Regions from separate parts of the Homo sapiens genome. Here region 1 is linked to region 2. A link means that fine-mapping ties the variant in region 2 to the expression of a gene that starts in the linked region. Tissue or cell type: whole blood. Region 2 holds a variant in brackets; the other region holds the start of a gene. All regions are shown on one strand. Distances are between the middles of the regions. Region 1 holds the start of PPP1R3G (protein phosphatase 1 regulatory subunit 3G). Region 2 overlaps LYRM4-AS1 (LYRM4 antisense RNA 1).

Region 1 (4,384 bases), 24 kb after region 2:
GGTTGTAGCCCAAAGGGTCGCCACCACCTCAAAATCTCTTTGAAGTCTTATTTTATCTTTAAAATAGCTTGTGAATTTTGTATTTAACTCCATAATGTAGCAATGTGTATTTAAATGTAAAAGCAATGTCCTTCCCGAAATCAGAGTTGCTGCAGGAAGACAGGCCGTGTGCGCCTGGGGCCTCTTGGAGATGCCATGCCCAAGTCAAGACACAGTCATGGAATTCCACACTGGGCATAAAATGACCAGCAAGAGTCCAGCAAGGGGACCGGCAGGGCCCCCTTTACAGGACATCACTCCCAGCCCAGGCTTAGTAGTGATGGGGGAAATGTTTCCTCTAAGCTGCCTGGCTTCAAATCCCATGAAAGCCACCCTGTGGGGCCTTGGCGATGAGAAATCTTTCTGCAGTGTTGTGTCCTATATGTAGGCAGGAATGATGTGATTCCTATTTCATGGACAGGACATCCTGTAGGTGCTCAGTCAATCAATGTAAGCTCTTAACACGCTCCTCACCCACCATCTCTTTTGCCTGCCCTCTGCCAACATGGCTAAAACCCTGGCCCCTTTCAGTTCTGCCAAACCATGACATGTTTTAGTTATGAAGCCCCAATTAATTACGTTTCTTAATTAGTGGTTCTGTTTCTAGAATCCCCAACTTTCTATATAAGTAACTGAATACACATCCACATAGGTTTAAATACGGTCCCCAGAGCCCAGCATCAGCATCCCCTTGTTAGAAATACTTCCAGGCCCCAGCCCAAGCCCACTGAGTCACAAACGCTAGGGAGCTGGGAGCAGTGGGGGGCGCCTGTAATCCCAGCTACCTTAGAGGCTGAGGCGGGAGGACTGCTTGAGGCCGGGAATTTGAGACCAACCTGGGCAGCATAGCAAGACCCCTATCTCGAAAAAGTTAGAAAGAAGGAAACTCTGGGAGTGGGGCCCTGTGATGTGACAACGGGCCCCCGAGTGATGTCCGTGCATGCTGAAGTAGAATCACTGACTTAGATGGCCCTCAGGGTGGCCTTAAAACCAAAACAAGAAAAACACCACTTTTAGACGTTCCCCCAATCCCTAGGTACCACGACGCGCTTCCCCACCCCTCCCCGGCCTCAGGTTCGGGCCTTGGCCCCTGGCAAGGCCGGAGCAGCAGGGCGGTGACAGCGCAGTCCGGCGCGGGCCACGCCCCCACTCCCGGTGGGCGGGGAGGGTGCTTGGGGCGCTGGCGTCCGGTTGCGGTGGGAGGTGGTGCGTGCCGCGTGGGCGCCGGCCCCACGGGGCCCCCTCTCCGCCCTCCCTGCGGGATCCCGGGGCGCGGACTCGCGGGCGCGTCGGGCGGGACAGGGGGAGGGGCGGGACGTGCTCCCGGGCCTGGCGCGAATGGCCTCCGGCCGCTCTCGGCTGCGGGCCATGGCCGCTCCCCGGCGCGTCCCCACACGGTCCCCGCCCCAGTCTGGCCGCAGCCCACCCCGCGCCGCCACTGGGCAGATGGGGGCGGCGGCTCCTGCCTCCCGGCTTTCGGAAGAGCAGAGCGGAGCGCGCCTGACCGAGTCAGGCTTCCGAGTGGGATTGGAACCCGGGGCGCCCTGAAGTTTGGGGAAAGCAGGAGCAGAAGGGAAGGGATGCGCTCCCCGCTCTCCGGCGGCGCGGAATGGGCCTCCTTCCAGCCTCTGCGTAGGCAAGATTTCCCCAGTTGCGCGCTGCACCGGGGACTCCCCAGCCCGTGAGGCAGCCAAGAGGAGAGCGCTCAGTGACCCTCTGGGGGCAGAGCCGTCAGGCCAAGTTCATGGGCAGGAAGACTTTGTGCACGTGGGGGTCTCTGAAGGTTGAGCGCGAGCTCTGCACCCCCACTTCGAGGCACTCAAGAAGCGGAACAGACGCGAGCCCCGCCGGGGGTGCGGGTGAGGGCTGCAGGGAGCCCGCGAACGACAGAAAGTCGCCCCCCGCATTCCACCGGAGCACTCGGGAACACGGCTTCCAGGTGTCCCAGCGGCCGCGCCTCCCCGCCCCCGGCCCTCCCCCGTCGCGGGCAGGTTCAACCGGGAGGCGGCGTGGCCCCGGAGCCGGCCCCAGGCCCGCATCCTCCTCCCACTTCGCCCTGGGCAGCCGCAGCTAAAAGCCGGAGGCTCCAAAGTGGAACTACGTTGTCTTGTCGAGCCTGGGGCGACTCGCCTCGGGGAGGGCGAGCCTGAACTGCAGCCCTGCGCTCCTTCCACGGCCCGAGGAGTTAGTTAAGTCTCCAGAGGGGCCCGGTTCGGCCCGAGCAAGTCCAGGGGCGAACGGCGTCATGGAGCCCATAGGGGCGCGGCTAAGTTTGGAGGCGCCGGGACCAGCGCCCTTCCGAGAGGCCCCGCCGGCCGAGGAGCTGCCCGCCCCGGTGGTCCCCTGTGTGCAGGGTGGCGGCGACGGCGGTGGCGCTTCGGAGACCCCGAGTCCTGACGCTCAGCTAGGGGATAGGCCCCTGTCCCCGAAGGAAGAGGCCGCCCCCCAGGAGCAGGAGGAGCTGCTGGAATGCCGCCGCCGCTGCCGCGCGCGCTCCTTTTCCTTGCCCGCCGACCCCATCTTGCAGGCGGCCAAGTTCCTGCAGCAGCAGCAGCAACAGGCGGTGGCACTGGGCGGCGAGGGGGCGGAGGACGCACAGCTCGGCCCGGGCGGCTGCTGCGCCAAGTGCAAGAAGCGGGTGCAGTTCGCGGACACGCTGGGGCTAAGCCTGGCCAGCGTGAAGCACTTCAGCGAGGCGGAGGAGCCGCAGGTGCCGCCCGCCGTGCTCTCGCGCCTCCGAAGCTTCCCTATGCGTGCCGAGGACCTGGAGCAGCTCGGGGGGCTGCTGGCCGCGGCGGCAGTGGCCGCGCCCCTTTCAGCGCCGCCTTCCCGGCTCCGGCCGCTCTTCCAGCTCCCGGGGCCGAGCGCCGCGGCCGAGCGTCTGCAGCGGCAGCGCGTGTGCCTGGAGCGCGTGCAGTGCTCGACGGCCTCGGGCGCTGAGGTGAAGGGCTCCGGCCGGGTGCTCAGCTGCCCTGGGCCCAGGGCCGTGACCGTGCGCTACACCTTTACCGAGTGGCGCTCCTTCCTGGACGTGCCGGCTGAGCTGCAGCCCGAGCCGCTGGAGCCACAGCAGCCAGAGGCACCGTCTGGGGCCTCCGAGCCAGGGTCCGGGGATGCCAAGAAAGAGCCAGGCGCCGAGTGCTTCCACTTCTCGCTGTGCCTGCCCCCGGGCCTGCAGCCTGAGGACGAAGAGGACGCCGACGAGCGCGGCGTCGCGGTCCACTTCGCTGTCTGCTACCGCTGCGCGCAGGGCGAGTACTGGGACAACAACGCGGGCGCCAACTACACGCTGCGCTACGCGCGCCCTGCGGACGCGCTCTGAGCCTGGAGAGTTTCGAAGAGCCGTGGGGCGGGGTTGATTAGCACGTGGAGCTCGGGCTGCCGCCTCAAGGAACTTGCTGGGACGCTTTGCTGAGCGTGGCGAGTCTGGCGTGAGGGGCGCGTGGAGGGAAAGGAGGGAGACTTTGAACCGTCGACTCGCACCCCCGCAGACAAGTGAGCGAGCTTAGAGAGCCCGGGCAATGCTCCGAAAGCCTCTGACCTCAGTCTTCTCGTCCGTTTGACCTTCCTACAAGGCCTCTAGAATTCCCAGCCTGCGTCAGAATAGGAAGAAACTTCCAAGGCCCGGAGCAGCTGCCTCCAAGAAAAAGGCTCCCAACTCCCGGGCATGGTTCTAAGGCCTTGGGATTGGTTTTTAACTCTAAATATCATATTGTAGCCCTTGCAGTTTGCTGGAGACCCCTAGGGAAAGAACAAAGCGTCCTGCCACGGTGCACCAGAGGAAGGTGCCACGGACTGTGGGTGCACGCGTGGGACCTTTACACCCCAACCTATTTCTCAGAGAAAACCCTTCGGGGCTGGGCCAGGCCACCCTTTTCTTTTGACTGAGATGTGGGTAATGTGTGCCCAGACTTGACGTTGTTTATTGTGCGACATTGTGTACAAATGTCCTTTATAAAAGTAAAGGCCACTCGCACCCCCTTTTACGCTGTACTCTGAATTTTGGCTTTCGTGAGTTTGGGGAGGCATTGGCAGTCGGCCGATCTTTGTCAGCTGATGATGTGCGCACTTTAACAATCCTTAAACAACAGCCTACAAATTCCTCCCCTTCGTTCCTTCCTCTCTACTGCGAAAGGGCCCAAACTTCCCATGTGCTTTAAAATGTTCTGTAGAAAGTGTTCCGTCCCCCTCCGAATTAAGACGTTTGGTGAATTGAAATGCCAGTCCTCGGGCAGGCCCTGGCTGTGATCTGCGAGAGCCGGGCACGCACGCCCCGGCGCCCTTTGTGTAGGCAGAGCACACTGTTAGGAGACTTGCCGGGCCATTAGCAGTCAGAGAAGCTGGG
Region 2 (4,384 bases):
TTACAGCCCTGTGTCTCCCCACTATTTTTATATATATATAATGCTTGAATGCTTGCTGCTTTGTTTTCCATTTTCTCTTTCTAGTTTAATGTTCTTTATATTCCTTTAAGGTAAAAATGTCTTGCTTCCAACTTGTTTTCCCTGATTTATCATTAACTGCTTTTAATTGAAAAAGTAATAAAAGCACATGACGAAAATGGAAAGAGATGAAAAGCATACACAATGAAAAGCAAGCAAGACCTCTGCTCTCCTAATCTCTGTCTCCAGAGGTGACACTGCTACTGGCTTCTTGTGTTTCCTTTTAGAAGTCCTCTATATGGCCAGGCATGGTGGCTCATGTCTGTAATCCTAGCACTTTGGGAGGCTGAGGCCGGAGGATCCCTTGAGCCCCGGAGTTCAAGACTAGCATGGGCAATATTGAGAGACCCAGTCTGTACAGAAAATTAAAAAATTAACCAGGTGTGGTGGCACACACATGTAGTCTTAGCTACCCGGGAGGCTGAGGTGGGAGGATCCCTTGAGGCCAGAAGTTCAAAGCCACAGTGAGCTATGACGGTGGCACAGCATTCCGGCCCGTGCAACAGAGCAGCGCCCTGTCTCAAAAAAAAAAAAAAAAAAAAGTCCTCTGTGTACATAAGAAGCACACTCCTCCCCTTTTATTGCACTAATAAAAACTTGGTATTCACACAGTTCTGGGCCTCTCTGATTTTTTCTTAACTCTGTATCTTGGGGATTGTTTCATATCCGCCCAAGAACAGCTACTCGACTCCCTTCCCTGAGTTTCCATTAACTGAATTCTTGTCGCAGGAAGAGGACTGTGGTCTGTCAACACACCTGGACATGCCTGCTCTGCGGCCCCATCAGACTTTGTCCCCAGGCCATTGTATGCTCTTCAAGTTCATTGAATCATCCTAAAAATCCTTTCCTACCACCTAACATCATCCACATTTCCTCATCTCCCTTTCCCTAAAAAGAAGGGTATTTAACCATCTGTACCCCATTGCATGGTGGGAGAATCACATGCTAATAAATTTATATGACTCTTCTCCTGTTAATCTGCCTTTTTTTTTTTTTTAAGAGACAGGGGTCTTGCTCTGTTGCCCAGGCTGGAGTAGAGTGGTGTAAGCATAGCTCATTGCAGCCTTGAACTCCTGGGCTCAAGTGATCCTCCCGCCTCAGTCTTTTGAGTAGCTGGGACTATAGGCATGAGACATGACACCTGGCTTTAATCTATCTTTTGTCAGTTGATTTTCAGCCAGCATTCAGAAGGCAAAGGGGAAGTTTTCCTTTGGCCCCTCCAACATGAAATCTGGATGTCCCATAATATATTGAACTTGTCCCCTCTTTAATGAGCATGTACATTGTTTCTGGTCTTTTCCTGTTACTAACAGTGCTTCAGTGAAATACATATGTACACACGAAAGTGTGGGATCAAGTTCTAGAAGCAGAGTTCTTAGGTCAAAACTATTTCTTTTAAAACATTGATAGATATTATTTTATTGCCCTCCAAAGAGTGAGCCTTTTTTTCAAAGATGGTGGGAATATTGATCTCTGTGTGTTGATTGTCTTTTGGATTTGTTTGTTATAATTTTTGCCATGAAAAAATGTTGGATTTTTAAGCAGGTACATTACTGTTTATGCTTTGCAGGTACATTCATGTAGGCCTTTTGGTTTTGTTTCTTGCTTAAGTCAGGTCTTGCCCAGTGAAGGTTTTTTTTAGTTGCCTACACTTTCTTATAGTCCCCTTGAGTTTCGATTTTTGTATTTTTTTTTTTTTGAGACAAAGTCTCACTGTGTCACCCAGGTTGGAATGCAGTGGTACCATCTCCATAGCACTCCCATAGAAAACTCACAAAAATCAGCTCACACGTCTGCCTCTCGGGTTCAAGTTATTCTTATGTCTCAGCCTCCTGAGTAGCTGGGATTACAGGCATGCGCCATCACACCTGGGTAATTTTTGTATTTTTAGTAGACACGGAGTTTCACTGTGTTGCCCAGGCTGGTCTCGAACTCCTGACCTCAGATGATCCACCTGCGTCAGCCTCCCAAAGTGCTAGGATTACAGGCGTGAGCCACCGTGCCCAGCTATATTTTTCAATTTATCTGGAATTTATTTTGAGAATTAGAATTCAGAGAGATTCTGCCCACCCCATAGCCAACTAGTTATACCAGTGGTATTTATTAAATAATTCATATTTTCTCGACCAATTTTGAATGCCACCTTTATCCTATACTGTTCTGTGTTCTTAAATTTAGGGGACAGCCAGTCAGGTGCAGCCTCAAGAGGGGACACAGGAGAGGCTCAGAAACAGTTTATAGTCCTCTCAGGTCCTTCACACAGGAGGCTGGCCATGCAGGTCACTTAATTAATTAAAAAGACAGTTAATTAATTGTATTTTTTGGTGAGGGATTATTTTACTTTTAACTTCTTAGTGTTTAATTTTTAATCCTTCATTTCTTCTATTTTTCTGATTTTAATTTATTTATCAGCTTTAGATTTTTGTCTCTTTTAACCCAAACCTGATTTACTAGAAGTTGTCTATTTTCATGCACAAACTGTCACACCACGTGCAGAGGCCTGCCTGTCAGTCAATAGTTCAGTTTTGGCTGAACTGCCAC[C/T]TTTGTTTCACAATAGCAAAACGATGATTTCACAATTGTTTGAATATCTTATTGCATTTTGCCCTTATTTTATACAAGATAGTGAACAATTGTAAAATAAAAAAGGTTAATCCTATCTATGTCATAAATAATGAGAGAAATGCAGAAATATTAGTTGCCTCCCAAGCTTTTCACTTACCAGGCTTACGCAGATCAAATGTGTGTTCAATAGCAAACGCTGAAGGTGGCTAGGGGCTATGGGGTTGGGATCTGAATCTAACTACCTGCATGGTGCAAGAACTAAAACCTGAAAAACGAACACAAAACCGATCCATGACCATTGAAATCCCCAGAGACTCTGGCAACAGGAAGTCTTGTACTGTTCTATTCCGCAGCCACCCAGAGCTCACGGGAGTCCCATAGAAAACTCACAAAAATCAGTTCACACACAATGAATTACAAAGCACTGGAAGAAATGAACACCATGAATAAGACGCAAGACCCAGAGATGGAATATTTATGCCATAATTGAGAATGTTATCACCTTTGTAATTCTCTAGCAATGGAGGTCTTTTATATGTGTGCATTGCTCAACTTTTTTATAATTAACTCTGGTACTTTCGTACCACCTCCACAATAGCGGGGTGTTTAATACTGATACTTTGCCATTTTCTTCCTTCTATTCTCCTGGCTTAAAATACTATTATTTTCATTTCTTTATTTCTTCTTCCCCTTCCTTCTTCTTTTTTTTTTTTTTTTTTTTTGAGATAGGGTCTCGCTCTGTTGCCCAGGCTAGTGTGCAGTGGTGCGATAATAGCTCACTGCAGCCTCAAACTCCTAGGCTCAAGTGATCCTACCATTTCAGTCTCCCAAGTAGCTAGGACTACATGTGCACACCAACACCCCAGCTAATTAATATATATTAATTATATATTTATATGTTGATAATATTTATAATACATATTAATTAATATATTTATAACATATATTAACATATATATATATGTTTAGAGACAGGGTTCACTGTGTTGCCCAGGCTGGTCTCGAACTCCTGGCATCAAGTGATCCTCCCACCTCAGCCTCCCAAAGTGCTGAGAGCCACCATGTCTGGCCTTATTTTCATTTCTTAATAATATCATTTCCCCTGAATTTCATGACCTATCTGCATTTTTCTTCCACATCATTGTTTTATTTAATTCACCCTTCCCTTTTAATAAAGGCCTAAGACAAATGTGGCCAAAGGGATGGTATCACCGAGGCAGCATGGCAGGAAGGATTAGAAGCCTCCCTTGCTCAGAGCTGCAGGTGAGCTGCCAGCTGGCTCTTCTACTGAAAACACATAACACATCCTGTTTGAGGACAGTTTTCCACCTCCCCAGGATCCAGGCGACTCTCAGGACATAATTTACTTCTCTGTGCAAGTGGTCCATGCATTTCTGGCTCTGTCAGGTGACTTCTGGAATTAGAACCTCATGGGAGAGGCTGCACACTTTAGAATCTGTGATCTCTGATGAATGCAACCATTGGATTTGGAGCAAATCAAAGCCTGCCGCAAGCCAGGAGGGGAAGGGAAGGAGGAGGTCACACTGGCAAGGGCCCTTGGAAGGACTCATGTGCCGCTGACTATCCTGTGGTCAAGTGGACCGTGGTGGAGGGTGGTGTGGGCATCCATTATCGAACCACTGGGTCTGCTCGTTCACAAAGCAGCTTCCCATGAGTCATTTCCATCTCTGCACCTCCTTCTCAACAGGCACAAGAGGAGTCACCTGTGGACATTTTCCCTCAA

The links.
Region 1: PPP1R3G starts here. The variant in region 2 is fine-mapped to the expression of PPP1R3G in whole blood (INTERVAL, PIP above 0.99). The same link has a PIP of 0.9 or more in T cells, blood mononuclear cells and monocytes.

Annotation. Positions count from the first base shown.
Region 1 is chr6:5,083,202-5,087,585 of GRCh38, forward strand. PPP1R3G (protein phosphatase 1 regulatory subunit 3G) reads left to right here and starts at 2,140. Exons shown (of 1, transcript NM_001145115.3): 1 at 2,140-4,384. The coding sequence starts at 2,285. The coding sequence ends at 3,361. All of the region lies in intron 3 of LYRM4-AS1 (LYRM4 antisense RNA 1), which reads left to right. It also overlaps a transcript of LYRM4 not described here. RefSeq lists silencers at 1,122-1,191, 1,222-1,501, 1,912-2,091, 2,342-2,441, 2,582-2,631 and 1 more and an enhancer at 2,422-3,111.
Region 2 is chr6:5,058,741-5,063,124 of GRCh38, forward strand. All of the region lies in intron 2 of LYRM4-AS1 (LYRM4 antisense RNA 1), which reads left to right. It also overlaps a transcript of LYRM4 not described here. Among named protein-coding and RNA genes, the nearest start is that of PPP1R3G, 24 kb to the right of the region's middle. The variant C/T (reference allele first, on the strand shown) is at 2,620.